4 linked regions of the Homo sapiens genome follow. The protein of the gene in region 3 interacts with the protein of the main gene of each other region in a pairwise test. Each region holds a gene or a part of one and is shown on either strand. Other genes may lie near its edges.

Evidence for each region.
Region 1: the proteins of RIN3 (region 3) and PLB1 interact in a two-hybrid assay, tested with the Homo sapiens proteins (one large-scale study listed by BioGRID and IntAct).
Region 2: the proteins of RIN3 (region 3) and ASB8 interact in a two-hybrid assay, tested with the Homo sapiens proteins (one large-scale study listed by BioGRID and IntAct).
Region 4: the proteins of RIN3 (region 3) and ZNF71 interact in a two-hybrid assay, tested with the Homo sapiens proteins (one large-scale study listed by BioGRID and IntAct).

What each region holds. Positions count from the first base shown.
Region 1 is NC_000002.12:28,499,060-28,502,559, reverse strand, and holds part of PLB1 (phospholipase B1, membrane-associated isoform 1 precursor), read right to left. Parts: intron 1-3,500. UniProt on the Homo sapiens protein: Calcium-independent membrane-associated phospholipase that catalyzes complete diacylation of phospholipids by hydrolyzing both sn-1 and sn-2 fatty acyl chains attached to the glycerol backbone (phospholipase B activity).
Region 2 is NC_000012.12:48,147,516-48,151,015, forward strand, and holds the end of ASB8 (ankyrin repeat and SOCS box protein 8), read right to left. Parts: intron 2,626-3,500; coding exon of another isoform or gene 2,602-2,625; exon of another isoform or gene 2,572-2,601; intron 2,484-2,571; coding exon 1,851-2,483; 3' UTR 274-1,850; downstream 1-273. UniProt on the Homo sapiens protein: May be a substrate-recognition component of a SCF-like ECS (Elongin-Cullin-SOCS-box protein) E3 ubiquitin-protein ligase complex which mediates the ubiquitination and subsequent proteasomal degradation of target proteins.
Region 3 is NC_000014.9:92,653,281-92,656,780, forward strand, and holds part of RIN3 (ras and Rab interactor 3), read left to right. Parts: intron 1-3,500. UniProt on the Homo sapiens protein: Ras effector protein that functions as a guanine nucleotide exchange (GEF) for RAB5B and RAB31, by exchanging bound GDP for free GTP. Required for normal RAB31 function.
Region 4 is NC_000019.10:56,601,802-56,605,301, forward strand, and holds part of ZNF71 (endothelial zinc finger protein induced by tumor necrosis factor alpha), read left to right. Parts: intron 1-3,500. UniProt on the Homo sapiens protein: May be involved in transcriptional regulation.

The sequences.
Region 1 (3,500 bases), on a different chromosome or scaffold from region 3:
TATACAATCCCAATGGATCATTCAGTATTAGCAAGTCTATTAATATAACTCAACATAATAGATCTAAGGGTAAATAATCATATGATTATTTCTATACATGCTGAAAAGGCCTTTAACAAAATTTAATATGAATTTCTGATGAATTAAAACTCAAGGATGTAGAAATTTATGGTTATTTCCTTAATATGAACACACACATATACATATGTTATGTATGTATGTATGATTCCCAAAGGCTATCATCTAACTGAATAGGAAAATATTCATTTCCCATTGCTTTTTGTAACCTTGAGACCACATGGTCCTTAAAAATATGAAAACATAATCAAATTACATTGTAATAAGATAAACTAAAATGTTTCTTACCTATGACATTTGCAAAAATTCTAAGTCTTGACTGCATGCTTTGTTGTCAATATAGCTTTATTGTCAAGCTATGAAAAAATAAGCAATTTCATATATATTGCTGGTAGGAATGCAAATTGGTACAATCCTTATGGAAGGAAATTTGGTAATACCTAACAAATCTATATGTGTGTTCACCCTCTGACCCAGAAATCCCAGTTCCAGGAATTTATCCTAAGTTAGATGTATAGCCTAGCATAAGCTGAACTTGAAAAAGATACATGCATGTGACTGTTCATGACAGTAGTATTTGTAATAGCAAAATATTGGAAACAACCTAATGGCCATGTTGGGAGGCTGGTGGTATATATGGTACATACTGGAATATTCTGCAGTTGGAAAAAAATAAAGATCTCTGAACTGATGTAGTATAATTTTCAGGACATATAATTAAGTAAAAAAATCAAAATGCAAAAAACATGTATAGTAGGTTATCTTGTGCAAGAATAAAGGAAAATAAGAATATATTTTCTCAAAAAGAAAAAGGATATTAAACTAATAAAATTGGTTACCTACAGGAATGACAGAAATGGGATAGAAAGGGTAGGGGAAGGGGATGGGACCTCTCTGAGTACATCTTTTCATATAGCTTCGACTTTTGAACAATGTTAATGTTTTATATATTGAAAAGACTTAGTAAAAAGCAAGAACAGAAGAAACACAAAATTAAATACAGACACACTTAACTGTATGCCACTAGGTTATATAATTACACAGAAAGAACAAAAAAAAATTCAAGTGATTCTGAACACAATATTTTGATTATACACCCTGAGTGGGATATATTCTAAAGGACGGAAGTATGGCAAAGGAATTTTGAACTTCATTTGTTGTTGGTGGTGTTGTCATAGCAATTCCAGTACTGTGTTGTATGTATTGTAGGATTCAGTAAGTGAGTAAATTCATTGATGTGTCTGTAACCCAGATTTGCACTGTGGGTGAAGGACAATACAAATATGGAATGAAAGAAGGAGATGAAAAAGTGTAATTCTACCTAAATTAAAGATAACTTTATAAATTTATTGGATGTTTTTAAAAAAGAAAACTACATTTCTTAGTTTTGTCACTGAAAGGGCCTAGACAATAACACTTCAGCATCAACAAACATTCCTAGCACCTGGACCTTGGTTTCTAAATAACACTCCCCTACCAATGGAAGCCTTGAAGAAACAGCTGATTCCAGGTTTGGGATAGAGGAAATACAAGGTTAGCAGGGAAAATCTTGTACCATGAAGTTTAAAAGTGCTTAAAAATTGATAGGGCCACAGAAGTTACCTTGAAGAGGCTCTCACTGGCCAAATCTGTAATAACTTTGGCATCAAAATGAAAAATAACAGGCCTGGATTACAACACACAGATTAATAAGAGTCCATAAGTGAATTTCTTTTCTTTTCTTTTCTTTTTTTTTGGAGACGGGGTCTCACTATATTGCCCGAGCTGGTCTCCAACTCCTGGGTTCAAGCTATCCTCCCTGCTTAGCCCCCCATAGATGAATTTCATATGAAAAAGATAAGACAAAAAGGAGGGGGGAGTTCAGTTAAATATTTATTTAAGTGGGGGAAAAAAGGGAATCTCTTTTTTATGGAGGAAACCCAACTGACAATAGCAGAAGGAAGAAGGAATGACAGAAAAATCACCATCTTCCAATCACCATGGTAAAAATTTAGGCAAGAAGTATCAATGGATGCTAAAAATCACTGGGAAAAAGGGTAATCACACAGTCTCACAGTATCTCCCTATGGATAATTTATAAACCACATGGGGCAGGTACCTTCACAAGGGAAAAAAGTCAGGCAGCCACACCTTCACCAAGTTATCAAATTTGGCATCACCAACTAGGGGATTCATGAACATCACTGTTTGTTGTTCATACACAAAAACCAGCTGAAGATGTTCACTGACACAAAAGAAACAAACAAAAAGCCGAGAGAACTATTCTTGATGAAAAGAGATTAAAGAGACAAGGCAAATAAATGCAACGTGTGGTCTCTGATAAATCTAATAAGCAATGACTGAAGAAATGAACAAAATAATAAAAAGTCAATTTATTTAATTCACAACATTAGCAGATAAAAGGAGTAAGTCACACAATCATCTCAATAAATACGGAAAAAGCATTAGATGAATTTCAACATCCACTTCTCATTTTAAAAAATCTCTTAGCAAATTTGGAATAAAGGTTTCTTAATCTCATAGAGCTTATCTACAAAAAAAGCCATTAGCAAACAGCACAATTACTGATGAGAAATTAAACATTTTCCTTTTTTTTTGAGACAGAGTCTGGCTCTGTCACTCAGGCTGGAGTACGGTGGTGCAATCTCGGCTTACTACAACCTCCACCTCCCAGGTTCAAGCAATTCTCCTGCCTCAACCTCCCGAACAGCTGGGATTACAGGCAACCGCCATCACGTCTGGCTAATTTTTGTATTTTTGTAGAGATAGGGTTTCACCATGTTGGTGAGGCTGGTCTCAAACTCCTGACCTCAGGTGATGCACCCACCTCGGCCTCCCAAAGTGCTAGGATTACAGGTGTGAGCCACCACGTCCAGCTTAACATTTTCCTTTTGAACTTGGGAATAATATAAGAATACCATCTTTGGTATCATCACCTCTTTAAAAAAAAAAAAAAAACTGTTGTGCAGGCACCAGCCGGCACAGTAAGATAAGAAAAAGAAATAAAGGCACACAGATTGAAGAGGAAGTAACAACACCGTCATTATTGGCAGGATTATGTGTGTTAGGTTGGTGCAAAAGTGAGTGCTATTTTGCCATTGCTTTGTTACAAAGCAATAGAGAACTAATCCAGACTTGAGCCTGGATTCTCTATTTTATTTTTTAAAAGGTCAGTTGGAACAACGCTATGTGCATTAGCTCTTCTGGTGGGAGCATTAAACAGCATTAAAAGTAATGGCAAAAACAGCAATCACTTTTGCACCAACCTAATAGAAAACCCAAAAGAATATATAAATTATTAAAATTTTTAAGTTTAGTTGAGTTCAAAATCAACACAAAATTCACTTTATTTCTATATATCAATAACAAACATTTCAAAATAAAAATTTTAAAACCCACTTGCCACACAACAAAAATATCTA
Region 2 (3,500 bases), on a different chromosome or scaffold from region 3:
TTTAAAAAGCTTCCTTAGTGATTTTATGTGCAGCTGGAGTTGAGAACATAAAAGCAGTAATTCCAAATTTGGGGTGGGAGAAGGTATAAAGGAAGGGGAAGCTCTTCAGATACTCTGCCCAAGCCCTCCTGTTCACTCCAGCAATGCCCAGAATCACTGCTGCTAATGGGAGAAAGGTTGGGATGGAAAGTTACATAGAACAGCCAGGCAGTAAACGAAGAACTTTTTCTAAGGGGGGTTGGAGAAAAGTAGGAAAAGTAGAAATTGCCAAACTTGCTTTTAGAACTATTTATTCTTTTTTTTTAAGTGATGTTTTTTAAACACCAGCATCAATAGGACAGAAGAAGACATCTGTTTTCCAATTAGCTGTGTCAGTAGATTCCATTCATTGTTTGTAGTTCCCAATCAGCTTTAAAAAAAAAAGTTTTTCAAATTTGCATACAAGTCATCTAAAATCAATAACAACTTGATCTAATTTAGAAAAATGAAAGAGTATCGTTCACTAAAGCAGATCTCTTTTGGGTAGATGGACCATCACAAAAGGAGCTCTTACATGCTTTTCCCACTCCCATCCCAAGTCCACCCTCCCACCAATTGTATTGTATAAATCAATAAAAAGCAAAGGTTCCAGAACAACTGAAAGAAAAATAATTCCAAACTAAGCAGAGTGAACTTTCCATTGGGAATGAAGACCCATGGGAAAAGGCAGCCCAGCCCATAACTCCTCCCTGCTGGAACACACACCGTAGGTGTAGGAACTGCCTGGGAATCCCATTAGAACACACTGTTTCTCAGGAAGAGAAAAAGCTGCATTACAAGAAAAGTTCTCAGGACTTTAGGAGTTCTTAGGACTGTTATTTCAGAGCTATTTATTACTGTTATTACAGAGCTCTTGTTATTTCAGAGCTACTGTAGCCCTTGGGCACAACCAACAGAAAGAGGCAAAGACTGCTGTTTCCTTTGATGAGGGGAAAGAGGTCCAGTCCCTTCCAAATGCCCCAGGACATGGCACAGTAGGGATGTCATCCAGCCCAGTTCTGGATCTGCACCATTTGAGGTTATAGTATCTTCATCTTTGGGACACAATTGCTGTTAGCTGAAATTGTGATTTTCTTAAGTTTTTTCACAGATCAATTAAAATGGTTTTTTTTTTTTTTTTTTTTTTTTGAGACAGTTTTGCTCTTGTTGTCCAGGCTGGAGTGCAATGGCGCGATCTTGGCTCACTGCAACCTCTGCCTCACAGGTTCAAGCGATTCTTCTGTCTCAGCCTCCTGAGTAGCTGGGATTACAGGCGCATGCCACCATGCCCAGCTAATTTTTGTATTTTTAGTAGAGACGGGGTTTCATCATATTGGTCAGGCTGGGCTCGAACTCCTGACCTCAGGTGATCCACCTGCCTCAGCCTCCCAAAGTCCTGGGATTACAGACGTGAGCCACCATGGCTGGCCTAAAATGCTTTCTAGAAGGGATTCTTCTGGACCGTTAACCACGTCCCCAAAGGAAAACCACACACACATTATTTAAGTACTTTCCATCTTCCTAGAGAAATTTAGTTACACTGTTGACTCCTTCCCTAAAGGGGAGGATTGAGGGAGACCTCTTCTTTTGCAAAATGCAATATAAAAAGCCAGGTAAGCAATAAACAGAAAACAAAAGTGAGGGATTTTTTTTGTTGGGTTGTTTGGTTTGGGAAGGGGAGGTGCTATGGAGGTTATTGTTGTGACATGTTGCTTCGAAATCTATAAACCACACAACAGGAACAACTGTTTTTCTGTTTTCTGTGACAAGGAGTACTGCAGGGACAACCTCACCCAGAGCTGCCTGCACGATGGTGCAAACATCTTCTCCGGCTATTCTAAAAGTAACAGGTATTCCTTCAAAGAAGCTGGCAGTGGAAGGCCCTTCACTGCATCGGGGAGATACTGGAGTCCCAGGCTACGGCGCACGGCATAGCGAGCGAGTGTTTTTAGAGTTCCTGGAGCTGAGCACAGAACAGTCAGTTTTTCACATAGCTGCGGGTCTCTGGCCACCTCTCGTGGCATGGTGCCATTTTTCCTCAATTCAAAGTGTCCAACAGCTCTGTGGAGGAGCTCAAAGCAAGAGTCCTCTTTCTCTGTTCCAAGTCCCCTGACTAGCAGAGCCACCAGGCGGGAGATGGGTGTCTGGCCTATTAGGTTGATGACTCTGACCTCTGCGCCATAATCCAGAAGGATGCTGACACTCTCAAGATTTCCCTTCATGGCAGCCCAGCTGAGCGGTGTATCATTGTTGTAATCCAGGGCATTGACAGAGGCCCCGCTCTCTAGGAGAGCCCGCACACACTCAGCATTGTTCTTAAAGGCTGCCCAGTGAAGTGGGGTATCTCTGTTGCCATCCAAAGCATTGGGGTTTGCACCATACTCCAATAGGACCTCCACACAAGCCTCATCTTTCTCTGCTGCATAGTGGAGGGCTGTTCGGTTATACCCATCCAGGGCATTCACCTGTAAAAAGGGAGGAACTATTACAGTAGACAGACTACTGAGAGGAAGACAGGACAGCAGCAAAGAAGCTTGCATGGTTACCCACTACCTTTGCTATGCAGTGCTCTGAACAGGAGGGTCAGCAAGCAACTCCCAGGGAGTCCTGGTGATAAAGATGAAGATATGACAGGAGCTTAGGAGCAAAAAGGAAAAGAACTGTCCTCAAACAGTCAACACTATTATGTGCACTGACTAGCTGGTCTGCATTATTTTGGTTTTTGCTGCAATGTTCTTTTATCTATTCATTAGAATCTCTACCACAGAGTAAGGGGTAAGGCAGGAATAGAGGAAGTCTAAGTCCCCGTAACTGCTCTGAAACATTACTGGAAAGCTGCTTGACTATACAGAGTTTTGGATTATTTTACTTACCCTGACCCTTTCTGTACCCTGTGGCTAATGTAGCAACCAAACTGAAAAACATAGCTTTTGCTAAGTTCTTTAACCATACAGAGAAATTCAAAATGTTAGAATATAAGTCAGACCTTTGCAAAAATATGCTGTGGGTTCACAAGAGAACCCAAATGAAAGCATGTGATAGGAAGAGCACAAATCTCCCAGTGCTGGAAAAGCAGCTGGCTTGCTGACAGTCAGCATCACCTGTAGTTTTTTTCTTCAAATTTCCAAATAGCATATACCCTCATTAATGAAAGACAAAAACAAAAAAAAACCCTGAAACATTTAAGTAAATTCAACCTTTTATTTGGCTAAAACCTATCTTAAGTACCACTTCTTAAGTACTTTAAGTACTTTTAAGGGTACTTTAGATTTAATCAGAGTTGAGGGATCTCTGCATTTATATCTCCTGGATAGACAATAAGCAATGAGAAGATTAAACGGAAATATAAACAGCCCCTACAAGGTAAGCTTCCTGAAGTGATGGCCAGTGACAGCTTAAGTTAAGGAGAAGAAAGAAAGGCAGAGTATCAGCACCATACAATGGGGGCAAGCAGGGTGGGGACAGAAAGGTAAAAGAATGAA
Region 3 (3,500 bases):
TTGACTGTATAGGATCTGTATTATCTGCACCCTCTCTTCCACCATCAGGGGCCCACTGCCAATTACTCCCTGCCATGGGGGACAAAGACTGGCCCCTTCGCCTCAAGCAGGACCACTGTGTGGTGCAGTTTATGCTCCAGGGCCCGGCGAGATCTGGCTGAGGCTGAGTTCATCCTTGCTCAAGCTCGCTCTGCGGCTTCCCACTGCGCTCACTCTCTGTCTTCTGAGAGTCTCCGCAGTGAAATCATATGCACCCAGATCCCTCTTTCACGCTCTGCTTTCAGGGAACCAGCCCCAAACAGCTCACTCCTCTGACCACCCCTTCTAAAGTAGCCCCTAGCCTTCCCCACCCTCACCAGCCTCGAATCCAATAATTATCAAAGCTTTTCCGATTGTGGTTCACGGTGAAAAGTACTTGTGAACAACCACACGCCTACGTATATTAAAAATATTCAGGCCAGGCGCACTGGCTCAAGCCTATAATCCCAGCACTCTGGGAGGCCAAGGCAGGAGGATCGCTTGAGCCCAGGAGTTCAAGACCAGCCTGGGCAACATGGCAAAACCCCGTCTCTACAAAAAATACAAAAATTAGCCAGGCATGGAGGCACGCACCTGTAGTCTCATCTATTTGGGAGGCTGAGGCAGGAGGATTGCTTGAGCCCTGAAGGCCAAGGCTGCAAAGAACCAACATCCTGCCACTGTACTCCAGTCTGGGTGACAGAGCGAAACCCTGTCTCAAAAAGAAAAAAATAGCTGGGCGTGGTGGCTCATGCCTGTAATCTCAGCACTTTGGGAGGCTGAGGTGGGGGGATCACTTGAGGTCAAGAGTTCGAGACCAGCCTGGCCAACATGGTGAAACCCCATCTCTACTAAAAATACAAAAATTAGCCAGGTGTGGTGGCGCATGCCTATAATCCCAGCTACTCGGGAGGCTGAGGCAGAAGAATTGCTTGAACCTGGGAGGCAGAGGTTGCAGTGAGCCGAGATTGTGCCACTGCACTCCAGCCTGGGCGACAAGAGCAAAACTCTGTCTAAAAAAAAAAAAAGAAAAGAAAAGAAAAAAAATACATTCTGTCAGTTCGCACTGCCGTAGCCAAAAAGTGGTTGCTAAACATTGAGCTGCTTCTGAGCTAGTTTGTAAATAGTTACTGCCCCAGCCGTCCCCTGGCGTCCCTAAGCCTCTCCTTCCCCACCCAATAATGAAAGAGTCAGTGCTGGGTACGGTAAAGGACACGTGGGCCTCTGAACACAGTAGCTTCGTAGCGAATGTTTCTTAGAAAAGGAGCTTCAGGTGTTCCTTTCCCAGGGCTACTGGATTTTGCTAGCAGACTCCTGAAAACGAATAGGTTTGCCAGGCCACAGGATTCATGATGGCGTTTCAGGTGTGGTGAGGGGTGATGGGATTGAGATCTGAGGCCAGTGCTGTGTGTGCGTCTGCACAGGGCCCTGTAAGCAGAGAGTCGACAAAGAGTTATTGGGCACCCAACTCCGCATCAGGTGCTGGCTCAGATATAGAGACAGAGGTGAGCAAAGCACTCAAAAGTTTCTGCCTGCGGGGAGCTTACGGTCTATCAGAGGTGACAGGCAATCAGCAAGAAGGATGAGTAGGGCCGGGTGCAGTGGCTCATGCCTGTAATCCCAGCACGTTGGGGGGCAGGTGGATCACCTAAGGTCAGGAGTTTGAGACCAGCCTGGCCAACATGGTGAAACCCCATCTCTACTAAAAATACAAAAATTAGCCAGGTGTGGTGGCGCGCACCTGTAATCCCAGCTACTCGGGAGGCTGAGGCAGGAGAATTGCTTGAACCAGGGAGGCAGAGGTTGCAGTGAGCCCAGATTGTGCCACTGCACTCCAGCCTGGGCAACAGAGTGAGACTTTGTCTCAAAAAAATAAAAGTTAAAAAAAAAAATAGAAAAATTAACTGGGCATGGTGGCATGTGCCTGTAGTCCCAGTTACTCAGGTGGCTGAGGCACAAGAATTGCTTGAATCCAGGAGGCGGAGATTGCAGTGAGCCGAGATTGTGCCACTGCACTCCAGCCTGGGCAACAGAGCGAGACTCTGTCTCAAGAAGGAAAGAGACAGAGAGACAGAGAGACAAAGGGAGAGAGAGAGAGAGTAAAGTATAGTGTAAGGAGACACATTAGTGAGTGCATGTGGATGGAAGTGAGGTCAGGAGGCTGTTGGGGGGCAGGACCCCAAGGACCTTGTGAGCCTCTCTATCAACCTGACTTTTCCTGTATGTGAGATGGGGTCGTGCAGGGTTCACGTCCAAGGGTGAGTGACCTCACTCACATGTGAACAACGTCACTCTGGCCGTCACACCTAGTGGGAGCAGAGAGACTCAGACTCAGTGTGAGGCTACTGTCAGAGCCAAGGTGAGCAGTGAAGGTGGCTGAGACCAGGACGGAGGCAGCACAGATGGGGAGACATGATTGGATTCTGCCTGTTGTGAAGCTGGAGCCACAGGACTGGCTGGAGGCCAGATGCAGGAGTGGTAGAGGGGAGGTAGGATGTGGACGAGCATTGGCGTCCCTGGGAGGACACAGCGTCCATCCTGGGGCAGGCACTGGGGAGGAGTTGAGGAGTTCAGTTTGGGACATGACACTGGAGATGCTTATTAGATACCAGGTGGGGAGGTCGAGCGGGCCATGGAGGGCTGAGTCTGCAGTTCTGGGGCTAAAGAGAGATGTCTGGGAACTGTCAGCACAAAAGGAGCCATGAGACTGGATGAGATCATCCGGGTCTGAGGACTGAGCCACAGGCACCGTGCAGACCAGGAGGACACAGAAGGGCATGGGAGGACGTGGAAGGACATGGAAAACTCCAAGTGGCCCAGAGGAAACTGTGGTCAGCCCTGCCTTCCAGAGTTGGGGGAGTGTAAGAGCTGAGGCCCAAAGGAGGAGTCAGGGATGCTAAGCCGTGGAAAGGGTAGTGGAAGGACTTTCCTTCCGGAAAGGGATGACAGCGTGGACAAAGGCCGAGAGGTGGGGAACGAGGCTGGAGGATCACGGGCCATTCACACAGGCAGTGAAAGTCAGCCTGAGGATTTAGCCCAGAGGTGATGGAGCCCCTGAAGGGTGTGTGTGGAGGGCAGAGGAGAGGGGACAAGACAGGGGGACGGCTCAGGAGGCTGCGGCGGGGCAAGGCCAGTACCCGGTGGCCTTCAGCAGAGCAAAGGAGGTGGAGCACAAGCTGGACCTCTGCTGGAAACAGCAGGAATGACTTCAGCCTTGGGGCAGCTGGCTGGCAGGATGCAGACACACCATGGGTCCTGTTAAGGCCAAATCTGCTTCGGGCACCAAGATGTCAAGAGGTGCTAGACTTGGAGTTTGTCCTGGCAGGTGATATGGCAAAGTGTCACCAGAGCCTGCCGTGGGCACGAATGTGTGGGGCAGAGAGGTTTCCAGGCAGTGAGAGGTGGCAGCTGAGCTGAGCCACCAAGGATGGGAAGGGCTGGAGCTACAGAGATGGAGAGAAGGGCCCTTCAGCCTTTGGGAA
Region 4 (3,500 bases), on a different chromosome or scaffold from region 3:
TCTCTGGACTCTTAGGAGACACAGGTGGGCACCTGTGGGAAGTGGTGGTTTAGACATGTGACATTGAGTGAAAACTTGCGCAGGACCATGCTGGATGTGTGACCTTTAAAATGGGCAAACACACTAAATGCTTCTTGTGAATGTGAATGCCCACATGTGTGATGAAAGTACAAAAGCTTATGGGAATGAGGCCCACAAATTCACCCATGATTTTACCCCAAAAGATAATCACTCTGGAATGTTTGAGTCTGGCTAAGCAATTTTAATGTTAAAGATTGCTTTTTCATCAGAGATTTCATCCTGAGCATTTCTCCACATCATTAAAAACTCCTTTGTAACGTCCATCTTAATGACCCCATAAAAGTGTTGTTCAGTGGCCATACCCTGGTTTACTTAATGGTTCCTCTGTTGTTGGACCTTTATTGGTTTCCAAGTATTCTTTTTTTGGTTATAAACAGTGTCATGAGGGACACTGGGCACAAATCTTTCTTTGTGTCTTATATGATTTCTTTAGGAGTGATTCCTTGAAGAGGAAGATTGGGTTGGGTATTTTTGAGGTATTTTGATATTATTTCCACATCAGTTACGGCGGTATGTATTCCCACCAGCATGTCTGAGCGGGTCTCTGATGATTTATATGGCTGTTGTCAGGCATTTATTCTGCATGTTGGATATATTTAGATTGGTGCAATATTGCACCATGATAATAAATGATAAATGGATATAAATGACAAATGCTATAAACCATGATGAGCCTGATAGGGGACAAATGGTGCCACGTGATTTATTTCTGAGTAGCATTGTTTGTATTATTAGTGAAGTTCAAGTCTTAGAAAATGTTTACTAGCCATTTCTGTGGGCAGGGAAATGATCCATCTTGTGCTTTAGCAGTCTACAGGAATCTGAGTATGCTTTAAAGACTTTACAGAAGCAAATGTGTGTGTGTAAATATTTGTGGCAAATATTCTTCCCAGATTTGCTTTTTGTTTCTTTATTTTACTTTATTTTTTCTGTATAAAAGCATTTCATATTTTTAAAATCAAATCTGTTGGTTTCTCCCACTGTGGTGTCTTTCTTCATCTTTAAGCTGTGAAAGGGTTTCTCCATCCACAGGTCACATAGCAGCTATATTTTCTTCCTTTTCACCATTTGTCATTTGAATGTTAACAATGAACTTTTGAATCTACCTGTAATTGATTTTGCTATATAAATGTGTCAGTAGACTTATTTGGGAGCTTTGGTTTATTCTGTCTTCATTTGTTTGGTACCTTTGTTGAGGTACACATCACGTATCACAAAGTGTACAATTCACTGATTTTGGGTACATTCATAGAGTCGCGTTAACCATCACCACAGTCCATTTCAGAATATTTTCATCATCCTGAAAAAGAGCCGAGTACCCATTGGCACTCATTTCCATTTTCCCCCATCAGTCCACGGCCCCTGGCAACCAGTAATCAGCTTTCTGTCTCTATGAATTTGACTGTTCTGGACATTTCAAATAAATGGAATCATACATGGTGTGGTCTTTTGTGACTGGCTTCTTTCACTCAGCATAATATTTGCAAGGTTCAACCATGTGGTAGCACATATAGAGCTTCATTCCTTTTTTTGACTGAATAATATTCCAGTGTGTGTTTCTACATATTTTATTTATCCTTTCATCAGTTGATGGACATTTGGGTTGTTTCCACTTTTTGGCTATTATGAATAATGCTGCTATGAATATTCATGTATAAGTCTTTGAACATATGTTCTCAGTTCTCTTAGGTGTGTACCTGGAAGTGGAATGTTGGGTCATATGGTTAACTCTGTTGAACCAGTAAAGGAACCACCAGACTGTTTTCCTAAGCGATTGCACCATGATGCCTTCATTTTTGTCTCATCTGTGATTCTTGCCTTGAATTCTTCTTTTACCTACATTACTTAGAAAGATTTGTTGATTGTTTTTATTTCAACAGGGTTGGGAGTTTTGGTTTAAGTTTTTTTTTTTTTTAATTACTACTAGTGTAATTACATTCAATTTTTAAAAAAAATTGAGCCTGTCTGGTTTCAGCGTTTTCCCTGTGGTGAAATGGTTTGTGTCATTAGACAGGAAACCGAAAAAGATGGAGTACTAGAAAAAGGGGCCTTGGACACGTACGTGCAGAGAACTCAGAGGCCCTTTGTTAGCACTTCTGTCCCAACACGATGGGCTCCCAGACCTGGAAGGCTGTGTTCTGTGTCTCAGCACAACCCTGGTGCCAGTCTGGGCTTGGTGCCTGGAGACTGCTCAGTGAATAGTTGAGTGAATTAGGTGGGTGTACTTAGGGAAGACTTCCAGAAGGAATTGTTGTATTACAATTTTGTAAAATAAATAAATATAGGTGTGAGAGGGAACTTTTGGAGGTAATGGATCCGTTTATGGCCTTGATGGTGGTGATGGTTCCACGGGTGTATATGCATCTGCAAACTCATCAAGTTATGTATATTATTAAATATGCACAGCTTTTTATATATCAGTCACACCTCAATCAAGTAGTTTAAATTTTTAGAAAAGGAGGAATTATTAGCTGGGCTGGCTGAAAGATACATTGGGCCAAAAGGTCAAATAATATCATATAAGGATCTACAGTTGTACATAAGATATATATTAAATATCAACATTAAATAATAGCAAGAGTCGACATTTACTGAGAGCTTCCTCCATCACACGAGGCACTGTGTTTGGACCATATTTGTACACATTTAACCTTACGACCCTGTGGAGGGGGACATTGTTATCAGGAAGCCTGCCTCTCATATGAGGCTTAGAAAGAGAAAGACAGTTGTCCAAGGAAACACAGCTCATGAGGGGCAGAGCCAGGATTCCGTTGCAGAGTGTGGTTCCTGAGCCTACACTCTGAACCACCAGCCCAACTGCTTTCTATCAAAGGTGACCCCTCAGGCAGAGGAGGCTATCTTGAGCCCAAGCCCCAGAAGGGCACCCTAGGACCATAGAGGGACTAGCCAGCGGGGGTGAGGCCTCCCCTTGGGATTCAGTTGGTGGTGGGGACACTCAGTATGCTGGAGAGAGCCAGTGAGCTCTGAGTGTCAGTAACAATAGCTGGCACTTATTGAGTGCCTGCTGTATGCTATGCATTACCATTCTGAGTGTCTTACATAAATAAGTGGGCAGGTGGGGCCTGTAGCAAATTGGAGCTTTCTTGCCCCATCAAAGGGTCAGCCACCACTCAGCTCCAGCCTAGAGTGGCCAGATATTCTGCTGTTTAAAGAGAAACTAGAAATTCATTTTCTTGGTAAATTGTGGATGTGTTTTTCATGTGAGTAACAATTAAAAACAATTTTGAAACCCCCATAGGAGCAAAATAGAAATGTGTACAGCTGGCTTCAGGCCCAGGTACATCTCATATGCTCTGTGTGCTCAGAACTCCCGTTCTTTCCTTGTGCCTTGGGGGTTGTACCACTGAATCAGTTCAGAACAGCAGGTCCCTCTGTAGGACACAATAGGTCTCTCATTA